Regions from separate parts of the Homo sapiens genome. Here all the other regions are linked to region 1. The links come from fine-mapping of genetic effects on gene expression. A gene starts in region 1. Each other region holds a variant in brackets. All regions are shown on one strand. Distances are between the middles of the regions. Region 1 holds the start of PHLDB3 (pleckstrin homology like domain family B member 3). Region 2 has its middle 16 kb from the start of LYPD3. Region 3 has its middle 7.8 kb from the start of LYPD3.

Region 1 (5,221 bases):
ACCCCGCAGCAAGGCCACCTCCACCTCCATCTGCGGAGAGAATGCCAGGGCTGGGGGCTCGGACGCCTAGGTCCAAGGAAGAGGCCCAGGGCCTGAACTACCGGATTCGAAGGGAGGATGGACTCCAGGGACCTGAATTTGGAGGGAGGAAGAGCGGAGGGCCTAAAATCTGATCCCACCCGAGGAAAAAGCTGGGAGTCCGGCTTTGCGGGTTCCGCTTGAGTTGGGGCCAGGCTTCCCAAGGGGTCCGCAGCCTCACCTCGATCCTCAGCTCCTTCCTCTGGCGCTGTAGCTCCTTCACTCGCTGCTCCATCAGGGCCACACGAGTCAATGCCTCCAGCTGCTGTCCTTGCAGGCGCCGCGCCGCCCCTCGCACCCCTTCCCGCGAAGAGGTGGATGCGGGAGGTGTGGCCGCCATAGCTATCGGAGGCGTAGCCTCGGGCTGAAGTTGAGGGGGGCGTGGTTAAGTGGAGATGCCTCGCCCCCTGCAATCACTAAGTAGGTCTGGTCCCCACCCAACATCACCCTCTGCGGGTCTCAGTCCATCAGTCCACTTACCTAACACAACCACCACTCCCATAATCTGTCGCAGGCTCTTTTCTTTTTCTTTCTTATCTTTTTTTTTTTTTTGTCCTGAGATAGGGTCTCACTGGCTGGAGTGCAGTGGCGCGATTACGGCTCACTGCAGCATCGACCTCCCTCGCTCAAGCGATTCTTCTGCCTCATCCTCCTAGGTAGCTGTGACTACAGGCGCGCACCGCCACGCCAAGCTCTTTTTTTTTTTTTTTTTTTTTGGCAGAGAGGGGGCGATGCTATGTTGCCCAGGCTGGTCTCAAACTCCTAGGCTCAAGGGATTCTCCCACCTCGGCCTCCCAAAGTGCTACGATTACAGGCATAAGCCACCGCGCCCGGCCTCAGACCCCTGTATTTAAGGTCGGAGTGGGGGAGGGTGCAAGTCCCGTGACCACCCAACCACACGGACCACAGAGGCTTGCAGTACCGTATGGAGGGTGAGCAGGTGTAAAGCCGACTTATGAAAGGTGTTTCTTTTTCTCTATCAGGTCCTATTCTCTTGGCGTCACTTTCTTGTAGTGCCTGGATCTGTCTCTGTCTCTCCACCTGACCCCAGTCTCTCAGATTCGGTATCTGTCCACTAGATCTGTCCACTAGAATCACTAGATCTTTCTTCCTCGGAGTATGTCCCTCTCTCGAGGTTTTTGTCTATTTGTTTCTCTGAGCATCTCTGCCATTTATTTCTGGGTTTCCCTCTGTCTCGATTCCCCTCTCTCTGACTCTAGTCTCACTGTGTCTCTGTCTTTTTGGGGTCTTTGTCTCTCAGTCTCCATGTCTCTGGGTCTCTGTCTGGCTTCTTGATCTCTCTGCATCTCTTACTCGTTTGGTTCTCTCTGTTCTGTAGTCTCTCCTGTCTGTCTATCTGGTCTCTCTCTCTCTCTCTCTCTCTCTCTCTCTCTCTCATTTTTAGAGATAGGTTCTGCTTTGTCCCAGGCTGGGGTGCAGTGGCGCAGTCATAGTTCACCGCAGCCTACAACTCCTGGGCTCAAGCGATCCTCCTGCCTCAGCCTCCCGAGTAGCTGGGATTACAGGCACGCGGCACTGCGCTTGGACAATTTTTGTATTTTTTTTTTCTCTAGAGACAGGGATTTGCTATGTTGCCCAGACTTGTCTCGAACTCCTGGGCTTAAGCAATCCTCCCCTCGGCCTCCCCAAGTGCTGGGATTACAGGCGTGAGCCACCTATCTGGTTCCTCTATACTAGTCTCTCTGTCTCTGTCGCCCGTTTGGGTCTATCTCCGTTCTTGGGGCCTCCCCGTGGCTCTATCTGGTTTCTGTCTCTGTATCTGGTTTCTGTCTGTCTGTGCCTCTGCCTCTCTGGCTCCGTGTCCTGGTGTATCTCTCTCTCAGTAGTCTCTGCTATCACTCGGTCTCTCTCCCTGTCTCCGGGTCTCTGTCTTTCTGGTTTCCCTCTACCTGTCTACCTGTCTGGCCACCTGTTTGGGTCCCCGTCGGTCCAAGCCCCCCGCGCTGTCGCCCTCGGGCCCCTCACCGCGTCGCGGCTGCTCTCAGTGCTGCTGCCTTCTCCCACTTCTTCTTCCTCTGCCTGCTGCTCAGCTCCCCCGCGGCTCGAAGGTTCCGCCAGGACTTCGGATGCCTCCTGTTCCCGGGACTCCTCGGGATGGCCCTGGGGCTGGACCTCCACGTCGCATTCCGGGACCAGCGGCGGCGGGGTCCCCTCCTCGGGGCTGCTTCGCGTCCCCATGGCCGCTGGGACTCCTGCGGGGTGGGCGGGACCAGAAGCTCCGGGGGCGGGGCCTAGGACGGCTGAGCGCCGCTCGCGTCTGCTCCGGGGCGCGGAGACCCCCCCCCAAGGAGGCGGGGCCTAAGAGTTCAAAGGATGGAACTGAGCGTTACGGAGGCGTGTCCTGAAGTTTCCAGAGGCGGGGCTTGATGGCTCCAAGGCGACACGCCACCGGAGACGGGACCGGAATTTGAGTCCGGGTCGTAGCACGCCCCCTACTGACCTCTTCGACCCCGCCTCCCCTCCCTCATCTCTAGGTGTCAGGCCTTGTACCCTCCCAGCAGCCCCCTACAATCTCTTGGATTCGCTTAGAGCGACCCATCTTCTCCCTCCGAGACTCAGCAGTTCGGCTCCCGCCCCATCCTTCCCGGAGCCCCGTAGTCTTAGTCCCGACCCCACTGTGCAGGGCAACCGTGCCCACGCCGCCTCACCCAGGGATCCAGGAGTCGGGGCTCTCCTTCTCTGAACAAGCCAGGAGTCGGAGTCCTTGAGATTCCGAAGTCCAACTGCCACCTCCCCACAGCCTCGGCCCCCTCACGAGCTCAGGCTTCGGCGCGCTCCGCTCTGCGCGCTGGGCACGGCCGCTTCTGCCTATGAGACAGGTGGCAGGGGAAGAGGGAGGAGAGAGGCCGCCCGGTCCCCCTCCCCAGCAGCCCGGAAGTGGAGGGGGGACAACAGGTCCAACAGCTCCCGAGGGAGGAGGGAGCCACGGGCTTGCCCCACCCGTGGCCTCGGCATCCGGCCATCCCGGCCCCACCGGCCCCGGCCCGGCCCCACCCTCGTGGAACTCAGCATCGCGACCTCCCAGTCTCCCTCGAGCCCCTCATTCCTGCCCCCCTGGAGGAGTCTTGGCCACCTCTGTATGGGAGCCTCTCTAATGTCCAGACCTTGGGAGTTCAGAAAGGAAGGCAGGAATGGAGATGGGGACGTCTCCCCTCTAATGAGCCCTTCAGAAGGGCCCTGACCGGTTTGGGGAGCTGGACAAGGGGAAGGGGTGCCCTGAACTGAGTCAGACACCTGCCCAGAGACTGAGGGAAGTGTACCGCCACCCCCCCACAACTTTGCTATGGGGTGGAGGGCAGAGGTTAAAGGTCTCAGCCAGACCCTTTCCTCTCTGGGCGAAAACAGGAAAATGAAAACAGGAAAATAACTGGTATATGAAAAGGGATGATTAGAAGTCAAGAGCTGTGTGAAACACTTTATACCCAGTCATTTAATTTCACCCTCAAAGCTGTCCAGCGAGAAAGTGATTACTACCTCCATTTCTTTTTTTTTAGTAGAGACTGGGTTTCTCCAGGTTGCCCAGGCTGATCTTGAACTCCTGGGCTCAAACAACCTGCCTGCCTCAGCCTCCCAAAGTGTTGAGATTACAGGCGTGAGCCACCGCTCCTGGCCTACTATCTCCATTTTACACTTGGGGATACAAGCTGAGGAGGACAAATGCACCCAAGGTTGGCTGGGCACAGAGGCTCAGGCCTGTAATCCCAGCACTTTGGGAAGCCGAGGCAGGTGGATTGCTTGAGATCAGGAGTTCAAGGCCAGCCTGGGCAACATGGAGAAACCCCATCTCTACTAAAAATACAAAAATTATGCCAGGCGTGGTGGCACACACCTGTCATCTCAGCTACTCCAGAGGCTGAGGCAGGAGGATATCTCGAGCCCAGGAGGTCGAGGCTGCAGTGAGTCTTGAATGTGCCACTGCACTCCAGCCTGGGCGACAGAGTAAGACCCCATCTCAGAAAAAAAAAAAAAAATGTAGCCAACATCTACACATGTTGTAAGTGGTAAAATGCAGGCTTCATTCTCTCAAAAGTCCATGTTCTTAACCATTGCGTATACTGTCACTACAAGCCAGGAAGTACCCAAAAGATCATTCTAAATGATAGTAACTTTAATGGTGAACACTGATAGGCCATGTGCCAGGCACTCACACACATTGACTCATCAGAGCATCACAACACCCCATTATTATTCCTTCCATTTTAGAGATAAGAAAACTGAGGCCTAGAGAAGTGAAGTAACTTACCCCAGGGCTAAGTGGGAAGTGGCTCAAAAGCAAGCCGGTGTTCTAATCCAAGGTGATGAGAAGACCTGCCCCAGATAGCTGTGTTTGTTTTTGATCTTGTGAGTTAGAAATCTTGTGGGCTCCCGGGCTGGGCGCGGTGGCTCACACCTGTAATCCCAGCACTTTGGGAGGCCGAGGCTGGTGGATCACGAGGTCAGGAGATCAAGATCATATTGGCTAACATGGTCAAACCCTGTCTCTACTAAAAATATGAAAAAATTAGCCGGGCATGGTGGCACGCGCCTGTAGTCCCAGCTACTTGGGAAGCTGATGCAGGAGAATCGCTTGAACCCGGGAGGCAGAGGTTGCAGTGAGCCGAGATCGTGCCACTGCACTCCAGCCTGGGCAATGGAGGGAGACTCCATCTCAAAAAAAAAAAGAAAAGAAAAAGAAAACAAATCTTGCAGGCTCCCTGGCCTCTCCATAGGACCAGAACCCCACCCCTTTCGGCCCAGAAACCCAATTGGTTCCCCCAGAAAATAGGTAGAAGTCAGACTCACGTTAAAAAAAGTTTTATTTAGGGAGCTCCAGGGAATGCGGTGGGAAAGGAGAGGTGCAGTGTCATTGCCGCCCTCTCCTCCCACCTAGTGCATTAATAGTGGATGGGAGCATCTGACAGAAGTGAGATCAGGCAGTGGGTGTCTGCACCCCACAGCGCATGTTGGCTGGAACAGCAAAGTCTGAAAGGAAGAAATCAAGGTTAAAACTAAGGGGCCTAGGTAGAGTTCCAGGCCCCACTGGAGACCCAGAAATCCTAGGAACCTTTCCTCTTCAGGAAACTAGAGTTTTGGTCCTGAGCCCACTCCTTCCCTCAGACCCAGGAGTCCAGTACCCCAGCCC
Region 2 (5,221 bases), 55 kb before region 1:
ACTTGCAGGGTGAAAACCCTACAGGAGCTCCCAGTTTCTCGTATAATTAACAGTTAAGGTGCCACTGTTCTTGTTTTGTTTGTTTGTTTTGAGGCAGGGTCTTGCTCTGTCACCCAGGCTGGAGTGCGGTGGCGCAATCTCGGCTCTCTGCAGCCTCGTCATCCTGGGCTCAAGTGAACCTCCCACCTTTTGACACAGAAAAGTTGGCTTATCAGTGGTTCATTTTGTTAACCCATGTTCATGAGTTTCTTGTGATGTGCTAATTTACTGCTGATATTTAGGATAGTCCTGTTGATCCTAATAAATTCCTAATTGTTGTTCTTGTTTCATCGGTTCACCGTGAACCAGTGGATGTTGTCTCACTCTTATCCCTGATGCACACTGGCACTTTTATATGAAGTGCCCTTGATGACACTAGTGATGATGGTTGTCACTAGAGTGGTACTTGCATTCTGGATTATCTTACTGCACTTTAGCTTGCTAGGTGAGCACTCAAACTCCCTAGTAGCTGAGACCACAGGTGCGTACCACTCAGCTAATTTTTGTATTTTAGCAGAGATGGGGTCTCGCTATATTGCCCAAGCTGGGCAGACTCATGGGCTCAAGTGATCCTCCCATCTCAGCCTCGCATAGTGCTGGGATTACAGGCATGAGCCACCGCGCCCCACCAAGATGCCACTGTTTTTTGTTTGTTTTTCTGGGGCTTGGGGGGCTTTTTTGTTTTGTTTTTTTGTTGTGGGGGGAGTTCGAGACAGAGTATCACTCTGTTGCCCAGGCAGGAGTGCAGCGGCATGGTCTCGGCTCACTGCAACCTCCGCCTCCTGGGTTCAAGCGATTCTCCTGCCTCAGCCTCTTGAGTAGCTGGGATTAGTCAGGCCCGCCACCAGGCCTGACTAATTTTTTTTGTATTTTTAGTAGAGATGGGTTTTCACCATGTTGGCCAGGCTGGTCTCAAACTCCTGACTTCAAGAGATCTGCCTGCCTTGGCCTCCCAAAGTGCTGGGATTACAGGCGTGAGCCACCGCGCCTGGCCAATGCCACTGTTTTTGAGGTGGGAGGCTGGACTCACCTCCAGAGGTGGGACTTGGGTATGGGACCAAATTGAGGACTAGCTAAGCAGTTTCCCATAATACACGCCCACCAGTATGCCACGTCAGTTTACCGTTGCCATGGCAACACCTGGGAGTTACTGCCCCTTTCCATGCCAATAACCCCACAAGCCAAAAGTCATTACCCCTTCCCTAGAAATTTCTGCATAAACCGCGCCTTAATCTACATGTAATTAAAAGTAAGTATCGGGCTGAGCACACTGGCTCACGCCTGTAATCCCAGCATTTTGGGAGGCCAAAGCTGGCGGATCATCTGAGTGAAGAGTTTGAGACTAGCTTGGCCGACATTGTGAAACCCCATCTCTACTAACAATACAATAATTAGCCAGGCGTGGTGACGCCCGCCTGTAATCCCAGCTACTCAGGAGGCTGAAGTAGGAGAATTACTTGAACCCAGGAGGCGGAGGTTGCAGTGAGCCGAGATGGCGCCACTGACAGCACTCCAGCCTGGGTGATAGAGAGAGACTGTTGTCTAAAAAAAAAAAAAAAAAAAAAAAAAAAAAGGAGTCTATTTACAAGGGTGGAGGCAGTGGGTAGAAAGATACAGGCAGCCCAAGGCAACCGTACATCAAGAAGGGAGTTGGGGAAATAAATACCCACCCTCCAGTTTCTTGCCAGTGTCTCCCCATTGGGCAAACCGATGCAGAAAGCTAGAGGTTCAGAAAGCTCATTGTGGTTCATGCTGATCCCAAGGTATGGTCAGACTCCCAGGAGTATGGCGGGGAGAGGTGGAGAGTGGACCTGAAGAGGCAAACAAAAAATATCCAGCATAGTCCGGGCACAGCAGCTCACACCTGTAATTCCAGCACTTTGGGAAGCTGAGGTGTGAAGATCACTTGAGGCCAAGAGTTCGAGACCAGCCTGGACAACATAATGAGACTCATCTCTACAAAAAAAAAATTTTTTTTTAATTAGCCTGGCATGGTGGCATGCACCTGTAATTCCAGTTATTTCCAAGGCTGAGGAGGGAGGATGGCTTGAGCCTAGGAGTTTGAGGCTGCAGTGAGCTATGATTGTACCACTGCACTACAGCCTGGGCAACAGAGTGAGACCCTGTCTCAAAAAAAAAAGGGAAGAAAAGAAAAAAGAAAAACATCCAGCATAGTGTTCTATTTGTATTGTTATTGTATTTCTTATTGTGGCCTATGAGGCCCTTCAAGGTTTAGGCCTAACCTCTGCCTCCTCTTCCCACCCCACCCACTACATTCCTCTCTGAAACCCAGGGACTGACTGGGAAGGGATGGGAGACAACCTTCTGGAGTGATGGTGATGTTCTGATTCAAGATAAGGATTTTGGCGGCACGGGCCTGCACATTTGTCAGAATTCCTCTAACAATGTGCTTAAGTTTTGTGCATTTCAGCATATGTAAATTTTACCTGAAGAGGAGAAACTAAATAAATATGCTTTTCAACTTACTTTGAAATGCATTGAAAAGGCAAGAAGGAGTGATGGATAGATGGATGGAAAGGTGGGTAAATACTTGATAAAGCAAGTTGAGTAAGATGTTAATTAATTTAGAATCTAGGTGATGGGGCCAGGCACGGTGGCTCATGCCTGTAATCCCAGCACTTTGGGAGGCCAAGGCAGGCAGATGGCTTGAGTACAGGAGTTCGAGACCAGCCTGGGCAACAGGGCGAAATCCTATCTATCTCTACAAAAAAAAAATTAGCCAGGCGTGGTGGCACATGCCCCTAGTCCCAACTACTCAGGAGGCTGAGGTGGGAGGATCACCTGAGCCACAGAAGTCGAGGCTGAAGTGAGCCAAGATTGCACCACTACACTCCAGGCTGGGCTATGGGAGTGAGACCCTGTGTCCAAAGATAAAATAAAAATAGAGCTGGGCACGGTGGCTCACCCCTGTAATCCCAGCATTTTGGGAGGCCAAGGCGGA[T/C]GAATCACTTGAGGCCAGGAGTTCAAGACCAGCCTGCCCAACATGGTGAAACCCCATCTCTACTAAAAATACAAAAATTAGCCAGGCGTGGTGGTGGGCACCTGTAATCCCAGCTACTCAGGAGGCTGAGGCAGGAGAATCGCTTGAACCTGGGAGGTGAAGGTTGCAGTGAGCCCAGATCACACCACTGCACTCCAGCCTGGGTGACAAAGTGAGACTCTGTCTCAAAAATAATAATAATAATCATACAAATAGAATCTAGGTGATGGGTATATATGAGTGTTCACTGTAAGATTATTTTAACTTCTCTATGTTTTAAATAATTCATTTTAAACATCTGTGCAAAAGTAAAAATAAAAATTTGGGAAAGTGTTGAGTCAGCAAAGGAATTTGGATTGGATTGATTGGTTGGAGGAACCAAGAAGAAATGAATTGCTCTGGGACTTTCCACAGAAACCACAACCGCTTCCCTGCAGCATAGAGCTGGCCTCCAGGAACAAACTGTGCCAGCTCTCAAGTCTCAGTTCTCCAGAAAGCCTGTCAGGAAAAAAGTGCAGAGAAGAGAAAGAGACAGCACCCTTGCTTCTCAGAAATCCTGTGATGAACAGATCTGCCTAACATCTGAAGTCATGCACTATTCATTCGACAAACTATAATTGAAACCCTCCTCTGTGCCCAGCCCTGAGATGTGTGTGTGGCACTGACAACATAGCCCCAGCCCTTCCCTCAGGAGACTCAAAGTCCAGGGGCAGAGACAGACACATCTTCCAGTGTTATGGTTTGGCTCCATGTCCCCACCCAAATCTCATCTCAAATTGTAATCCCCATGTGTGAGGGAATGACCTGGTGGGAGGTGATTGGATCATGGGGACGGTTTCTCACATGCTGTTTTTGTGCTGATGAGGGAGGTTTCACGAGATCTGTTGGTTTAAAAGTGGCAATTTCCGGCCGGGCGCGGTGGCTCACGCCTGTAATCCCAGCACTTTGGGAGGCCGAGGCGGGCGGATCACGAGGTCAGGAGATCGAGACCATCCCGGCTAAAACGGTGAAACCCCGTCTCTACTAAAAATACAAAAAATTAGCCGGGCGTAGTGGCGGGCGCCTGTAGTCCCAGCTACTTGGGAGGCTGAGGCAGGAGAATGGCGTGAATCCGGGAGGCGGAGCTTGCAGTGAGCCGAGATCCCGCCACTGCACTCCAGCCTGGGCGACAGAGCGAGACTCTGTCTCAAAAAAAAAAAAAAAAAAAAAAAAAAGTGGCAATTTCCTTTGCTCTCTCTCTCTCTCTCTCTGTCTCTCTCTCTCTTTCTCTGCTGCCGCCATGTAAGACATGCCTTACTTCCCATTGACCTTCTGCCATAATTGTAAGTTTCCTGAGTCCTCCTCAGCCATGCAGAATTGTGAGTCAATTAAACCTCTTTTCAGTCCAGGCGCAGTGGCTCAAACCTGTACTCCCAGCACTTTGGGAGGCCAAAGCAGGCAGATCATCTGAGGTCAGGAGTTCAAGACCATCCTGGCCAACATGGTGAAACCCCATCTCTCCTGAAAATGCAAAAATTAGCCAGGTATGGTGGCGGACACCTGTAACCTCAGCTACTTGGGAGGCTGAGGCAGGAGAATTGCTTGAACCCGGGAGGTGGAGGTTACACTGAGCCAACTTCTCTCTACTGCACTCTAGCCTGGACAACAGAGTAAGACCTTATATTAAAAAAAATAATAATAAATAAAGGCCAGGCATGATGGCTCATGTCTGTAATCCCAGCATTTTGGGAGGCCGAGCCAGGCAGATCATGAGGTCAGGAGTTCAAGATCAGCCTGACCAACATGGTGAAACCCTGTCTCTACTAAAAAATACAGAAATTAGCTGGGCATGGTGGCACACGCCTGTAATCCCAGCTACTCAGGAGGCTGAGGCAGGAGAATCACTTGAATCCGGGAGGCGGAGGTTTCAATGAGCCGAGATTGTGCCACTGCACTCCAGCCTGGGCAACAGAGCAAGACTGTGTCTCAAAAAAAATAATAAATTAAAAAAATAAAAACCTCTTTTCTTTATCAATTACCCAGCCTCAGGTAGAATCTTTATAGCAATGTGAGACCAGACCAATACATCCAGATAGCAACAATCCCAAGTGATCAAAACAATAATGGGGGAAGCCCCAAATGAGGCATGTGACCCAGACTGGTGGTCAGGAAAGATACCTGATGGAGAGGACATCCAAGCTA
Region 3 (5,221 bases), 47 kb before region 1:
CTGCCTTGCCTCCCAAGTAGCTGGGATTACAGGCACCCACCACCACGCCCAGCTACTTTTTGTATTTTTAGTAGAGAGGGGGTTTCGCCATGTTGGCCAGGATGGTCTTGAACTCCTGACCTCAGGTGATCCACCCGCCTCGGCCTCCCAAAGTGCTGGGATTACAAGCGTGAACCACTGCACCTAGCTCATTTTATTTTTATAATGCCCATAAAGCATCAAACTGTGTGAGCACACCATCATAAGCATAACCAGTTCCCTCCTGATAAACATTTAGGTTATTCCTAATGTTTTGTTATTCCAAACACTACTGCAATTAACATCCTGGAGCAGACCTGACATCAGCCTCAGGCGTCCATGTCTACATGTGAGATAAATTCCTGAGAGAAAAACCTGCCAAGTCAGAAGCGATCTGCATTTGTCATTTAGAAAGACGTTTCCAAATTGCACCCCAATTTCCCTCCCCTGCAACTGATTGACCAACCATTTCTCAAAAGGGCTTTTTGAGCACTCTCTCTCTCTCTCTCTCTTGCTGTCTCTGTATTTTTTTAATGTTTGACAGCAAGAAGATAGTCATGTCTTGCTTATGTAATTAAAATTAAACAAGCCCTTCGTTAAAAACACACAAACCCAGGAAGAAGAGAAACCAGCAAGGCCAGTTCAGGCAGATCCACCCTGCCCCTTGTCACACCTGCCTTGTCCCCAGCAAGCCCTGAAAAAGAGGCTGAAATCAATTTCTCACACATGGACCTCAGACATCAAACCTTGGAAAAAATACAGGAAAGAGATTTTGTAACTTTCCCCCTCTGTGGCTTTTCGTACGGCTAAACCCTCTCACTCTCTCTTCCCTTTCTTTCTCCTCGTCCTTTTTCTTCTTTCTCTCACTTCTGTTTTGGTGAGCTGTCATTAAAAACACTTTAAAGCCGTGTCCAGTCTAATAAGTTATACAGAATCTGGCTGTGTGTGTGTGTGTGTGTGTGTGTGTGTGTGTGTGTGTCTGTGTGTGAGAGAGAGAGAAAGAGAGAGAGACAGAGTCTCACTCTGTCGCCCAGGCTGGAGTGCAGTGGTACAATCACAGCTCACTGCAGCCTCCGCCTTCCGGGTTCAAGTGATTCTCCTGCCTCAGCCTCCCAAGTAGCTGGGATTGTAGGCGCGCACCACCAAGCCTGGCTGATTTTTTTTTTTTTTTTTTGAGACAGAGTCTCACTCTGTCACCCAAGTTGGAGTGCAATGGCACAATCTTGGCTCACTGCAAGCTCCGCCTCCCAGGTTCAAACGATTCTTCTGCCTCAGCCTCCTGAGTAGCTGGGACTACAGGAGTCCGCCACCACGTCCAGCTAATTTTTGTATTTTTAGTAGAGACAGGGTTTTACCATATTGGCCAGACTGGTCTTGAACTCCTGACCTAAGGTGATCCGCCCGCCTCGACCTCCCAAAGTGCTGGGATTACAGGCGTGAGCCACCATGCCCAGCCGATTTTGTTGCATTTTTAGTAGAGATGGGGTTTCGCCATATTGGCCAGACTGGTCTCGAACTCCTCACCTAAGGTGATCCGCCCGCCTCGACTTCCCAAAGTGCTGTGATTACAGGCGTGAGCCACCATGCCCAGCCGATTTTGTTGCATTTTTAGTAGAGATGGGGTTTCGCCATATTGGCCAGACTGGTCTCAAACTCCTGACTTCAAGAGATCCACCCGCCTCGGCCTCACAAAATGTTGCGATTATGGGTATGAGCCACCACACCTGGCCAGAATCTGGTATTTTTAACAGAAAGCAGAGCTAGGAGCTTAAAAGTAGAAACTAGATGAGCAAAACAATTGATTATATTTGAAACACATTAAGCTCTTCTTTTCTCTTCTCCTCCTGAACACAAGCAAGTAACTGTCTGGAAGGAGGTTGGAGGGGTTGCGGTGGGGGAGCGGGAGTCTCAGGGCCCATAATGGGTTTCAGAGGCCAAGATGGATAAGGAGGTCATCCTCCCAAGAAGATGGGAAGGCTGGACAGTGACAGCTGCAAAAGATTGGTTACTTTCAGGGGGATGGATCCGCTAAGTAAATATATTGCCAGCCTGGCCAACATAGCGAATTCCCATCTCTACTAAAAATACAAAAATTAGCCGGGCGTGGTGGTGTGCACCTGTAGTCCCAGCTACTCGAGAGGCTGAGGCAGGAGAATTGCTTGAACCTGGGAGGCAGAAGTTGCAGTGAGCCAAGATCACGCCACTGCACTCCAGCCTGGGCAACAGAGTGAGACTCCATCTCAAACAACAACAAAAAAAAGCATTGGAAGCCAGATTTCTTTTTTTTGAGACAGTGTCTTGCTTTGTCACCCAGGCTGGAGTGCAGTGGCACCATCATGGTTCACTGCAACCTCGGCCTCCAGGGTTCAAGCGATCCTCCCACCTCAGCATCCCCAAGTAGCTGGGACTACAGGCACGTGCCACCACACCTGGCTAATTTTTAATGTATTTTTCTTAGAGACGAGGTTGCCCAGGATGGTCTTAAATTCCTGGACTCAAGGGATCCGCCTGCCTCAGCCTCCCAAAATGCTGGGATTACAAGCATGAGCCACCACGCCCAGCTGAGTGGTAGGGATTTTGAGCTGGGGTGAATGGCGATTGTAGGTCATTTGCATTTTTAATCGGCTTTACCCAGAAGAGAAGGCAACTTTCTTCTGTCTTCATGACAGGAGGTATTTTACAACTGAGAGCTGAGTCATGTACCAAAGTTAGGCTCTCACCTTCC[TG/T]GGGGGAGATAGGAGTGCTATTTCCTTTTATGTTTACAATTTCAAAAAGATAGTTTCCTGGGTCCTGGTCACTCATCCCTGTAATCCCAGCATTTTGAGAAGCCAAGGCAGGAAGATAGCTTGACCCCAGTTCAAGATCAGCCTGGGCAACATAGTGAGACTCCATTTCCTGGGCTATCAACTGGCAAGATACTTTTTTTTTCTTTTTTTTTTTGTGACAGAGTGTCATTTTGTCGCCCCCAGGCTGAAGTGCAATGGCGTGATCTTGGCTCGCTGCAACCTCCGCCTCCCAGGTTGAAGCGATTCTCATGCCTCAGCCTCCTGAGTAGCTGGGATTACAGGCACTTGCCACCACACCTGGCTAATTTCTGTATTTTTAGTAGAGACGGGGTTTCAACATGTTGGTCAGGCTGGTCTTGAACTCCTGACCTCGTGATCCACCCGCCTTGGCCTCCCAAAGTACTGGGATTACGGGCGTGAGCCACCGCGCCCGGCCAAGACTTTTAAAGAGGTTTATATCCATCTCAAATGGACAAAGAAATAATTTACAATGACAAGTTTTCTCAAGTAAATGCTCTAAGAAAAGGGAGGTAAGGGGCCTCTGTGGTTAGACCCTCTGGATTCTGAGGGCCTAGAGGCAGGAGGAAGCCTGTCTAAAGTTTAGTCAAGCTGAGGGAAACATTATGGCAGTGTTGGTACACTCTGTAAAGCTGACCTGCCCGTGTTCAAATCCGAGCTCCACTGCTTAATAGCTGAGTGACGTGGGGCAAGTTTCTTAACCTCTCTAGCCCTGATTTCCCCATCTTGTAAAATGCAGGTGATTAACACTTACTTCATAGGATGGTTTTGTAGATTAAATATATTAATCCAAGTACAGCACTTAATACAGTACCTGGCACATAATCAATGTATTATTTGCTGTGGGTAATTACTTCATCATTCTGAGCCTCAGTTTCCCCAATCATCCCATCTGAAAATATGTGGAAAAGTCAATGAGATGATGGCTGTAAACTGATAGCATAGACTTGGCATCTAGTAAGACTGTCTTTAATCACTAACACAGCTGGGCACGGTGCCTCACATCTGTAATCCCAGCACTTGAGAGACAGAGGCAGGAGGATCATCTGAGCCCAGGAGTTCGAGACCAGCCTGGGTAACATAGTGAGACGCCAATCTCTACAATACAAATAAAAGTTAAATTAAAATTTAAAAATCTCTGCCGGGCATGGTGACTCACGCCTGTAATCCCAGCACTTTGGGAGGCCAAGGTGGGTGGATCACCTGAGGTCAGGAGTTTGAGACCAGCCTGACCAACATGGAGAAACCCCATCTCTACTAAAAATATAAAATTAGCCAAGCATGGTGGCACATGCCTGTAATCCCAGCTACTCGGGAGGCTGAGGCAGGAGAATCGCTTGAACCTGGGAGGGGAGGTTGTGGCGAGCTGAGATTGTGCCATTGCACTCCAGCCTGGGTAACAAGAGCAAAACTCCATTTCAAAAAAAAAAAAAAAGAAAAATCATTAATACTCCCAACACTACATTTACCATCACTGATGTTTCCCTCTATACATGTATTGCAATATATGTGTTTCAGAATAAGAGCTCATACTCTTATTGATGTTCTATTTTGTTGCTATTCTCCTTATTTGCTATTGTTTTGTTGTTACCTCACACTACTCCCCATTATCAATAGTAATATTGGCTATCAATAGCAATATTGGCAATATACTGTTATGATCTCACTATTCCCCACATCTGATCCTCCTCCCATCAAGCAGTCGCAAAGCCTACCAGGAACTCTCTCATTCCCAAACCAGGCTTTTCCCCTCCAGTGCCTCTAGGGCCAGGCCTTCATCTGATTGGAAGGAGATGGAGGTGGGGCTCAAGCCCCAGGTCCCCAACATCAAGCAAAGACCAACAGCAGCACCCCCGGGTCCTACAGACAAGTGGGACACAGTAGGTAAGCCCAGTTAATGACTTTTTTTTTTGAGACGGAGTTTCACTCTTTGCCCACGCTGGAGTGCAGTGGCGTGATCTCGGCTCACCGCAACCTCCACCTCTTGGGTTCAAGCGATTCTCCCGCCTCAGCCTCCCGAGTAGCTGGGATTACAGGCATGTGCCACCATGCCCAGCTAATTTTGTATTTTTAGTAGAGACAGGGTTTCTCCATGTTGGTCAGGCTGGTCTCGGACTCCAGACCTCAGGTGATCCAGCTGCCTCTGCCTCCCAAAGTGCTGGCATTACAGGCATGAGCCACTGCACCCAGGCTTAATGACTCTTAGTAAACCAGATGAAGCCGGGTGCAGTGGCTCCTGCCTGTAATCCCAACACTTTGGGAGTCCAAGGCAGGAGGACTGGGCATCATAGCAAGACCTCATCTCTACAAAAAATAAAATTAGCCAAGTATGATGGGATAAGCCTGTAGTCCCAGCTACTTGGGAGCCTGAGGCAGGAGTTAGAGGTTGCAGTGAGCTA

What was found.
Region 2: its variant is fine-mapped to the expression of PHLDB3 in whole blood (TOPMed, PIP 0.96).
Region 3: its variant is fine-mapped to the expression of PHLDB3 in prefrontal cortex (GTEx, PIP 0.97).

Annotation. Positions count from the first base shown.
Region 1 is chr19:43,501,842-43,507,062 of GRCh38, forward strand. PHLDB3 (pleckstrin homology like domain family B member 3) reads right to left here and starts at 2,905. Exons shown (of 16, transcript NM_198850.4): 1 at 2,748-2,905; 2 at 2,065-2,291; 3 at 260-442; 4 at 1-30. The coding sequence starts at 2,277. ETHE1 (ETHE1 persulfide dioxygenase) reads right to left here. Exons shown (of 7, transcript NM_014297.5): 7 at 4,878-5,061. The coding sequence ends at 5,009. RefSeq lists an enhancer at 2,041-2,563 and silencers at 2,192-2,441, 3,042-3,101.
Region 2 is chr19:43,447,233-43,452,453 of GRCh38, forward strand. No RefSeq gene overlaps it. Among named protein-coding and RNA genes, the nearest start is that of LYPD3, 16 kb to the right of the region's middle. The variant T/C (reference allele first, on the strand shown) is at 3,002.
Region 3 is chr19:43,455,190-43,460,410 of GRCh38, forward strand. No RefSeq gene overlaps it. Among named protein-coding and RNA genes, the nearest start is that of LYPD3, 7.8 kb to the right of the region's middle. The variant TG/T (reference allele first, on the strand shown) is at 2,744.